Linked DNA regions of Homo sapiens. The protein of the gene in region 2 interacts with the protein of the main gene of each other region in a pairwise test. Each region holds a gene or a part of one and is shown on either strand. Other genes may lie near its edges.

The links.
Region 1: the proteins of SLC7A14 (region 2) and NINJ2 interact in binary tests that used the Homo sapiens proteins (3 or more experiments, as listed by UniProt).
Region 3: the proteins of SLC7A14 (region 2) and PLPP6 interact in binary tests that used the Homo sapiens proteins (3 or more experiments, as listed by UniProt).

Annotation. Positions count from the first base shown.
Region 1 is NC_000012.12:656,909-660,560, reverse strand, and holds part of NINJ2 (ninjurin-2), read left to right. Parts: intron 1-3,652. UniProt on the Homo sapiens protein: Its role in unclear. In contrast to NINJ1 paralog, does not mediate plasma membrane rupture (cytolysis) downstream of necroptotic and pyroptotic programmed cell death.
Region 2 is NC_000003.12:170,477,962-170,481,613, reverse strand, and holds part of SLC7A14 (solute carrier family 7 member 14), read left to right. Parts: intron 1-447; coding exon 448-1,325; intron 1,326-3,652. UniProt on the Homo sapiens protein: Imports 4-aminobutanoate (GABA) into lysosomes. May act as a GABA sensor that regulates mTORC2-dependent INS signaling and gluconeogenesis. The transport mechanism and substrate selectivity remain to be elucidated.
Region 3 is NC_000009.12:4,660,738-4,664,489, reverse strand, and holds the start of PLPP6 (polyisoprenoid diphosphate/phosphate phosphohydrolase PLPP6), read right to left. Parts: upstream 2,197-3,752; 5' UTR 2,115-2,196; coding exon 1,227-2,114; 3' UTR 1-1,226. Other genes in the region: SPATA6L (spermatogenesis associated 6-like protein), read left to right, coding at 2,454-2,591. UniProt on the Homo sapiens protein: Magnesium-independent polyisoprenoid diphosphatase that catalyzes the sequential dephosphorylation of presqualene, farnesyl, geranyl and geranylgeranyl diphosphates.

The DNA.
Region 1 (3,652 bases), on a different chromosome or scaffold from region 2:
CAGACCATCCTGGCCAACATAGTGAAACCCTGTCTCTACTAAAAATACAAAAATTAGCTAGGCGTGGTGGTGTACGCCTGTAGTCCCAGCTACTCAGGAGGCTGAGGCAGGAGAGTTGCTTGAACCTGGGAGGCAGAGGTTGTGGTGAGCGGAGATCGTGCCACTGCACTTTTGAGACTCTGTCTCAAAAAAAAAAAAAAGAAAAGAAAAAAGAAAGAAAGCATAACAACTTATCAGACCTGTGATTCCTTTTTTTTTTTTTTTTTTTTTTAACAGACAGGATCTTGCTGTGTCACACAGGCAGGAGTGCAGTGGTGCAATCTTGGCTCACTGCAGCCTTAACCTCCTGGGCCCAAGTTATCCTCCTGCCTCAGCCTCCTAAATAGCTGGGACCACACATGTGCACTACCATGCCCAGCTAATTTTTTTTTTCTTTTTTTAGTGATTGGGGTCTCACTGTATTGCCCAGGCTGGTCTCTAACTGCTGGTCTCAAGTGATCTTCCTGTCTTGGCCTCCCAAAGTGTTGGGATTACAGGCATGAGCCACATGTCCAGGCAATTCCAACATTTTTATTGCTTAGGATGAGCCTCAAGTAAGTGGCAGGAAGTTTTTTGACACCTTTATACAGTCCTTGCACATGACCTGGGCATACCCTCAATGTCTTAGTAACTGTTTCTGTCTGACCTGTTCAGAAGTACGGCAGCCCTGGGTGACATGGATCACAGGTGTGTGTGCCCGCACCTACTACTGCACTGAGACGTTGAAACCCTGAACATGGCACAACTGAAGTTTGGGAAACTCTAATCTAAAATAACATTAACTTGAGCCTCTATAATCAATGTTGCAAATGTATCTCCAGGTCAAGACCTGTGAGACTGGGATGGGTAGCAGCAGCACAGCTGGCTGTGAAGAGTGGCGCACAGCACTCAGGGCAGGTGGCCTCCACCAGCTGGATGCCTGGAGCTGCTCCTTCTGTTCTATGGCCTGTGGCTGTGGCCTCCAAGCCTCTGCCCTTCTCCCTGCCTTCACTGGTAGCCCTGCCAGGGAGCTAAGCCTGCGCATCTCCCAGAGTCTGGATGTGTGAAAGGTTGAGGATAATCCCTTTCTTCCCCTTCGAGCCAGTGTTGCAACCCTACCCCCAAGTACAGAGTTTAAGCCCCTAGCCTGGCTCCTTCCCAAAATGCAGCTCCTCTTGGGCTTCCAGATTCCCCAGGCAGATCCAGTTATTGGCCCCTTTTTTTCCACCTGTGCTGCATGTTGATGGAAATGTGAAGATGATCTGCCAAAAGAGGAACTAAGACTTGTCCAAACCGAATGCAAATTCAGTATAGCTCAGGTTAAGTAGAGCGAGATACAGATAGAATGAGATGGGAGTGGAGGTAAAAACACTTATGAATAGAAGAAGGTCTATAGGCAAAGTACTCTGGGAGTGTTTTTGTTTGTTTGTTTGTTTTATTGTTTTTAAAGACATATATATATATAAGCAGTTATATATTATATATATATTATATATAATATATAATAGCAGTTATATATAGAGAGAATAGCAACTATATATGTAATAGCAGTTTTAGGTTCATGGCAAAATGGAGAAGGAAGGCCAGAGATCTCCCATATAGCCCCTTGCCCCACATGCATAGACTCCCCATTATCAACTTCCTCCACCAAAATGGTACATTGTTTTTTTACAACCGATGAGCCTTACATTGACACATCATTATGACCCAAAGTCTACAGTTTACATGAGGGTTCACTCTTGGTGTTAAACATTCTATGCGTAATAACATGTTTCCACCGCTATAGCATAGTATAGTATAGCATAGCATAGCATTAGCATAGCATAGCATAGCATAGCATAGCATAGCATAGCATAGCATAGCATAGCATAGCATAGCATAGCATAGCATAGCATAATAGAGAAGTTTCACTGCCCTAAAAATCCTCTGCATTCTGCCTCTTCATTGCTCCTTCCCCTCTGAACCCCTAGCAATGACTGACTTTTTGTTTTGCCTTTTCCAGAGTGTCACATAGCTGGAATCATACAATATGTAGCCTTTTCAGATTGCCTTCTCTCACTCAGTAATGGCACTGAAGTTTCCTCCATCTCTTTTCATGGCTTGATAGCTCATTTCTTTTAAGTACTGAATAATATTCCAGTGTCTGGATGTACTACTGTTTATTTTATTCACCTACCGAAGGACATCTTGGTTGCTTCCAAGTTTTGGCATTACGTATCATTCTGTATAAAGCCACTCAGCTGGGCGCAGTGGCTCACACCTGTAATCCCAGCACTTTGGGAGGCCGAGGTGAGTGGATCACTTGAGGTTAGGAGTTCGAGACCAGCCTGGCTATCGCTAACATGGTGAAACCCCACTTCTACTAAAAATACAAAAATTAGCCAGGCATGGTGGCAGGTGCTTGTAATCCCAGCTACTCGGGAGGCTAAGGCAGGAGAATCGCTTGAACCCGGGAGGCGGAGGTTGCAGCCAGCTGAGATCGCACCACTGCACTCCAGCCTGAGTGACAGAGTGAGACTCTGCCTCAAAAAAAAAAAAAAAAAAAAAAAAAAAAGCCTGTGTAGGTTTTTGTGTAAACACAAATTCTGAATTCATTTGGGAAGATACCAAGGATTGCAATTGCTGGATCATATGGTAAGAGTGTGTTGAGTTTTGGAAGAAACTGCCAAACTGTCTTCCAAAATGGCTATACTGTTTTGCATGTCCACCAGCAATGAATAGGTGTTCCACATTCTCATCAGCATTTGGTATTGTCAGTGTTCTGGATGTTGGCCATTCTAGTAGCTGTGCAGTGATATCCCATTTTTGTTTTAATTTGCATTTCCCTAGTGACATAAGATGTGGAGAATCTTCTCATATGCTTATCTGCTACCTTTGCATCTTCTTTAGTGAGGTGGCTGTTCAGGTTTTTTGCCCATATTTAGTGGGGTTACTTATTTATTTATTTATTTTTTGAGAAGGAGTCTCGCTCTGTCTTCCAGGCTGGAGTGCAGTGGCCCGATCTCAGCTCACCGCAACCTCTGCTTCCCGGGTTCAAGCGATCCTCCTGCCTCAGCCTCCTGAGTAGCTGGGACTACAGGCATGCGCCACCATGCCCCGGCTAATTTTTGTATTTTTAATAGAGGCGGGGTTTCACTATGTTGGCCAGGCTGGTCTCAAACTCCTGACCTTGTGATCCACCCGCCTCAGCCTCCCAAAGTGCTGGGATTACAGGTGTGAGCCACTGCGCCCGGCCTTATTTTCTTGTTGTTGAATTTTAAGATTCTTTGTCTGTTTTGGATAACAACTGTTTATTAGATGCATCTTTTGCAGATATTTTCTCCCAGTCTGTGGCTTGTCTTATTCTGTTGACATTGCCTTTCACAGAGTAGAAGTTTTCAATGTTAATAAAATCCAGTTTATTATTTCTTTCATGGATTGTACCCTTTGGTATTGTATACAAAAAGTTGTAAGCATATTCAAGGTCATCTAGATTTTCTCCTATATTATCATTTATGAGTTTTATAGTTTCGCATTTTACATTTAGGTTTATAGTCCACTTTGAATTAATTCTTGTAGAGGGTGGAAGGTCTGTGCTTAGATTCATATTTTTACACGTGGATGCCCGGTTATTCTGGCACCATTCGTTGAAAAG
Region 2 (3,652 bases):
CCTGGTCAACATGGTGAAACTCTGTCTCTACTAAAAATACAAAAATTAGCCGGGTGTAGTGGTGCATGCCTGTAATCCCAGCTACTCGGGAGGCTGAGGCAGGAGAATCACTTGAACCCAGGAGGTGGAGGTTGCAGTGAGCTGAGATCACGCCACTGCACTCCAGCCTGGGGGACAGAGTAAGCAGAGTGAGACACCATCTCACCAAAAAAAAAAAAAAAAAAGAAATCAAAGATTTAAAGTGAATTCTTTTTTAATTATATACCAAATCCTGGGGTAGGAATAGCAGCTGGATTTAAAGTAGTGAATGCAGAAGTAAATTGGTGGAGCAGGACCAGGAGGAGTTAATCACACCAGCCTATTGATAGTTCTAGCTCCCTATGTTGGCTGCACTGGAATCGGTCACTGTAGCTCACCATTAACCCTCTGCTTGCCCGGCCCCTCCAGGTTCCTGGCTCACGTCAGCTCCTACACAGAGACACCAGTGGTGGCCTGCATCGTGTCGGGGTTCCTGGCAGCGCTCCTCGCACTGTTGGTCAGCTTGAGAGACCTGATAGAGATGATGTCTATCGGCACGCTCCTGGCCTACACCTTGGTCTCTGTCTGTGTCTTGCTCCTTCGATACCAACCTGAGAGTGACATTGATGGTTTTGTCAAGTTCTTGTCTGAGGAGCACACCAAGAAGAAGGAGGGCATTCTGGCTGACTGTGAGAAGGAAGCTTGTTCTCCTGTGAGTGAGGGGGATGAGTTTTCTGGCCCAGCCACCAACACATGTGGGGCCAAGAACTTACCATCCTTGGGAGACAATGAGATGCTCATAGGGAAATCAGACAAGTCAACCTACAACGTCAACCACCCCAATTACGGCACCGTGGACATGACCACAGGCATAGAAGCTGATGAATCCGAAAATATTTATCTCATCAAGTTAAAGAAGCTGATTGGGCCTCATTATTACACCATGAGAATCCGGCTGGGCCTTCCAGGCAAAATGGACCGGCCCACAGCAGCGACGGGGCACACGGTGACCATCTGCGTGCTCCTGCTCTTCATCCTCATGTTCATCTTCTGCTCCTTCATCATCTTTGGTTCTGACTACATCTCAGAGCAGAGCTGGTGGGCCATCCTTCTGGTTGTTCTGATGGTGCTGCTGATCAGCACCCTGGTGTTTGTGATCCTGCAGCAGCCAGAGAACCCCAAGAAGCTGCCCTACATGGCCCCTTGCCTCCCCTTTGTGCCTGCCTTTGCCATGCTGGTGAACATCTATCTCATGCTAAAGCTCTCCACCATCACATGGATCCGGTTTGCGGTCTGGTGCTTTGTGGGTAAGCAACTTCCTTTGGAGCCTTAAGAGTTCCCTTTTAAGGTCTTAAGCATGCTTATCCCAAAATTACCTCCTAGCTGGACTAGGCAACTCCGTTCCCAGAGAAATCTGGCTGGTTCTATGGACCCTTGTGTTCCGCCTAAGAGTCAATAAAGCCAGTTGTCCCCTTTCTGCCTGTAATGTTCTTAGTCATTGGTTCTGGAAAAATGATGTTGATTAATCCATCGCTTTACTGAATTACTGAAAGTTCTTTCTATATCAGGATAATTAATACCAGAAAAAGTCCACTTAAAGTGAATCCACATTTTTAAGGTGACAAAAATAGCATAGTATAATTGGGGTCAGGGCATTTGGATGGAATTTTATCATAGAAACTAAGAATTGTAAAATGAAAAACTATCTTAGATTTCACAAAATTAAATTAAAATAGCAATTATGCTCTCATTTTTAAATGAACAAGGTGTGAATTAAGTGTGGATTTTTTGGCATAATTTTTCTGACAAAATTGAATCATGGCATCATTTAACATCTCTCACTTCATACTGACTTTTGTAAAATATTCAAAAGTTTTTCATATTTCCCAAGGTCCTTTCTTCATTCATTGACATTCCAATCATTCACTTGGGAAGTACCCATCATGCCACCATCCTTACTGATTTTCTCTCTCCTGCTGGTAATAACTAATATGACTCTGTTAGGTCCTCAATTGTCTACAATTTTGGGTGTGAATTCAAATTGTTCTCTAAACTCACTTTCACGGACTTCAAGAAGTCCTGTACCTTCTCTAAGATTTCTAATTTTACTTTGTGATCCATTTCTATTGTATTTGCAGTACTTGCTTATCATCTAGGACAATCTCTGATGTTCATGAGGTGGCTGGGGATTGATGCTAGTAAGAACTTGAGAAGTGTAATGGAAGACTCATTTTAAAGTTCCTTAGTCACTATTTGTATGTCCTCTGAACAACTTGGTAACCCTGGGGTCTCTGATAACAAATTCTTAGCTAAAGAGGATCTTTAGAAGCTCTGGGGAATAGAAGAGTAAACCCTGCCTAAAGGAGAGGCAAGACAAACACACGAGTCACTTAGCCCAAGAGAGGCCAAAGAGACTCTTTTTGTTGTTGTTGTTGTTGTTGTTATTTGTTTGTTTTGTTTTGTTTGTTGTTGTTGAGATGGAGTCTTGCTGTGTCGCCCAGGCTGGAGTGCAGTGGCTTGATCATGGCCCACTGCAACCTCCGCCAACCAGGTTCAAGCAATTCTCCTGCCTCAGCCTCCTGAGTAGCTGATATTACAGGTGAGTGCCACCATGCCCTGCTAATTTTTGTGTTTTTAGTAGAGATAGGGTTTCACCATGTTGGCCAGGCTGTTCTCGAACTCTCAACCTCATGATCTGCCCACCTCAGCCTCCCAAAGTGCTGGGATTACAGGCATGAGCCACTGTGCCCAGCCCACAGAGACTCTTAGTGATGAGTGGCAGTGCATCCACTCCTAGAGATCAGGAATACACTTGTTCAACATGTGTCCTCCGTGTCTGGAGCAGGGTGCCCGCAGTATGTGCTCAAAAATACTTCTTAAATTATTATAAAGTACTCTTCAAAGGGGAAAAAGGAAAACTTCCAGTCAGAATTGCCAGAAAAAACTTGGAGGGGGTAGAATACAAAGTGGCCCTATAAGTTAAGATATAGATAGAAAGAAGTGGGGGAAAAAGTAGCAACCAATGGAAAGGGCATATGTCTTCCCCAGAGGCCTGACTCCTTGCTTCTGAAGGCTGCTCTATGGCTTCCTGTAAGCATTTTGTCCCAATTTTTCACTATTCTAAGTCCCCCTGGTTAGACTTCAGGAGGATTTCTTGAGAGGACCCCACTGACTCATCAAGATTTTAACCAATTTTTATAACACATTTACAATCTCTTGGCTGGGCATAGTGGCTCACGTCTATAATCCCAGCACTTTGGGAGGCCGAGGAGGGCAGATCACCTGAGTTTAGGAGTTCGAGACTAGCCTGGCCTACATGGCAAAACCCCATCTCTATAAAAAATGCAAAAATTAGCCAGGCGTGGTGGCAAGTGCCTGTAATCCCAGCTACTTGGGAGGATGAGACAGGAAAATTGCTTGAACCCAGGAAATGGAGGTTGCAGTGAGCTGAGATCACACCACTGCACTCTAGCCTGGGAGACAGAGCAAGACTCCATTTCAAAAAATTTTTTTAAAAAAATTAATATTTTAAAACTTTTTAAAAAAATACAATCTCTTATCTCTAAACATTTTTCCACTGGAACATGTAGCTAGCCAATGCAGATTCTACTCTGGATAGAAGTGATGGAAGTGG
Region 3 (3,752 bases), on a different chromosome or scaffold from region 2:
AATGTAAAGGTCAATGTAAACAGAAATTTTGGAGTTTTATCTTGTGCCTGGTATAGCAGCAGACTCCCATGATGAATTTCAAGTTAAATACTGTTACCTAAAATGTGCTGTACCTCAGAAAACGGAATTCCATGTGAAAAACTGTAGCATACAGGTATATACGAGAAAGCTTATGTTCTTGCATTGAGAAGACGTTCCTTTTCCCCACTTTATTACCCTGAAAGAGGAGCATTATTCTTTATTCAGTGGAGATGACTGGCAGCAGGGCCCCATCTCCTGTCATACTGGTCACTGGCATAATATGTGGTCAGCCTATTCCCAAACTTTCAGTTCCTCTAACTTTCCCCAGCAACTTAGTTTCTCTGCCCTCTCTCATGCCATGTTACGTTGTAAACAAAAATAAGCATGGGGCCATGTCCCATTCTTCCTCTTCTATGAGCATCTTAGATATGCCTACCTTTTAAGTGATTCCTCTTTAAGCAAGTTGGCTTTTTCTCTGAATGCTAAAAGACAGTAAGGGAGTAGTGGGAAATGCATAAAGATCTTTTGAGGGATGGAGGGAGAGGAGAGAAAGACAAGTATTATAATCTCTTTTCCCACTACCCGATCCACAAATATGGATAGAGATAATAAATTATAGAGATAATAAAGTAAAAAAGCTTACCAAGAAAATCAGGATTAAGAAGAAATCTCCCAACTGTGGCAACAGATCTTCAGGGAATAAACTAGAAAAACCTATGTCTTGGACTTTAAAAATACTGTTTAAAATCTACCTCAGGAAAAGGACTAGGATTAGTACATGACCTGTCTGCATGTATATTTACAGAATGAACATCATGTTTCTTTCTCGAAGTTCAGTTTACAAGTGGTATGTTGATTTAGGGATTATCACAAAACACAAATCTTACTGATACCAACTTTTAACAGCAACAGTATAACCACCTCAGCTTGTTTTCTTTGCAGTTGTCCTGGAAACATAAACAGTTGTTGAATAAATATACAATAGAGGATTTTTTGGGTTTTTTTGCTTTCCCTAATATGGCTGTGTTCAGTAATGGCCAGTGTGTGCTCCAGCCTAGCAGCACATCAAGATCATGGGACACCTGAAATCCCAAAGGAAGCCTGAAATGCCTAAGAGGGACAAGCGGGATGGCTGCTGGTTTAGGTTGACATCATCGAATGTGGAAACCTTCAGACTTCCTGGTGCCATAATCAATGAGATGGTGTCATCGTTGACTCCACAGTAAAAAGAGGACCGGAGCATTATGGGGTGAGAGCCAGCAATAGTCCACGATGCTGTACTGCATGTAGCCCAGAAAAAAGCCAAAAGCTACGTCGGTGACATTGTGCCGCCCCAGCATGACCCTGGATAGGCCCAAGACGAAGGCCCACAGAACCACCAGCACCCTCAGTGGAATGGCCAGCACCAGGTGGTTCAGGATGAACCTCGACATCAGGGCGGCCCTTGTGGCATGGCCCGAGGGGAAGGAGTACTTGTCCACCGAGAGAGTGACAAACATGTCCATCTGGTTGTGGGCCGGGCGGCGCCTGCGGACCAGCCCTTTGATCAAGGCCACCAGCAGCAGGTCCAACAGCAGGGCGAAGAGCAGGTTCATCAGCACCTCGCGCCCGGCCCAGCTGTCGCTCCTGCACAGGCAGTAGAGGGTGCCCAGCAGCCAGGGGATGCCGTGTCCCGAGATCTCCAGCAGCTTCATAAGGGGTCGCACGCTGCCCCACGACGAGCTCTCTCCCGCGCACACCCCCAGCTTCTTGGACAGCCACAGGTCGATGGCCAGCAGGGAGCGCAGGGCGATGCCCAGGAAGGACGGGTTCAAGTCCATGCGGTCCTCCTCGGGCAGCGGAGGCGCGGGCGACTGCGAGGGGCCCGCCGCGGCCAGGGGGAAGGAGCCGCGGCGGTGAACTGGGCTCTCCGATGCACGGAGCCGGGCGCAGGTGGGGTCCACGGCCGTGGCGCGGCTGCTGAGCAGGGACTGGAACTCAAACCTGCTGCCGCCGCCACCGCCGCCATGGGCTGGGCTGCCGGGGCTGCTGCTGCTGCTCGAAGCGGAGACGCCCAGCGGCCGTCCCTCCATGCTCCTCCGGGGACTTGGCATCGCAGCTGGCGGCCCGGATCCCGGGACCTGGCCGGACCAAACAGAGGCTTCCCGGCCCTGCAGCCTCTTCCGCTTCCGCACTACCATCCCGGAGGGGCGGGGAGAGGAGCCGGCGAGAGCGCGATTGTGACACCTGGTGGAGACGTGGGAGGGAGTTGGAATTTCCAATGTGAGGAGAGCAGAGGGGAGGATGTTGGCGTTGGGAGGTACAGGTGAGGGAGTGAGGTGATGGGGAAAATGTCAGTGTCTGTAGGAGCTTAAGAGAAATAGAGCCCCGTGTAACAAAACAAAGCAAAGTCTGTTTTCTCTCCCTTGTTTGTTGTTTTCTTTCTTTTTAAGATTTCTTGCCCAGGAGTGTTCCTGCCTGGCAAACAAGATGTGTACCTCGGGGTCTACCTCATGAATCAGTACCTGGAGACCAACAGCTTTCCCTCTGCGTTCCCCATTATGATTCAGGAGAGCATGAGATTTGAAAAGGTGATCTTGACTTTCTCATTGGCTTTTGTTGTCTGAAGATAACCTGAGAGTTCTTATAAAGAACAGAGTTCTTACAGCATTATTTGGTAAATTTCATTTTTAAAAAAATTATCCGAAAGCACTTCAGCACAATGCAAAACCGCAGTCGGAACACTTGCTTTTGTAATGCAGGTCTGAGCCAAGTTCTGTCAATCTAGTGCTAAATACCCTGGTTGATGTTTCCTATTCTTGGAACTCCCATGGCATTTTTTTAACTGGAGCAAAGAGAGCATTTCTGAATGTTTTTGGAGGTGTTAGAGGTAATTGCATTACATTTACGAAAGGGATTATTAATAAACTGTGGACCTTAGAAAAAACTGTGTTAGACCAAGAAAAATAGCGAAAAAAAAATAATGAAATTAGTTAAATCCTGTAACTAAAATCCTGTAACAAAAAGGCTGTTCAGATTTACTGTTTCCTCAGATCATACCTAGATTATTTAGCTACAGTGATAAAGGCTAGATTCCATTCTGGTGAATAACATGGTGATATAAATAGTCAAAACATTACCAGCCTTCTTCACACTAAACTATTCATAGAATATTGATGTTATTACTATGTCATCACTGACAATCTCTTAACATTTTTGTTTTGGAATTTGGAGATGGAATCAATTTTAACCTTAATAAGTCTAATGATTTTGCCCCAAACAATGTCATTGAGGGAGATCTGGGGAGAAGGAAGGCTACAGAGTAGAGCATGTCACATTTTTTTAAAAAAATTATACTTTAAGTTCTAGGGTACATATGCACAACGTGCTGGTTTGTTATATATGTATACATGTGCCATGTTGGTGTGCTGCACCCATTAACTCATTCCCCCCACCCCACGACAGGCCCCTGTGTGTGATGTTCCCCACCCTGTGTCCAAGTGTTGTCATTGTTCAATTCCCACCTATCAGTGAGAACATGCGGTGTTTGGTTTTCTGTCCTTGTGATAGTTTGCTGAGAATGATGGTTTCCAGCTTCATCCATGTCCCTACAAAGGACACGAACTCATCCTTTTTTATGGCTGCATAGTATTCCACGGTGTATATGTGCCACATTTTCTTAATCCAGTCTATCACTGATGGACATTTGGGTTGGTTCCAAGTCTTTGCTATTGTGAATAGTGCTGCAATAA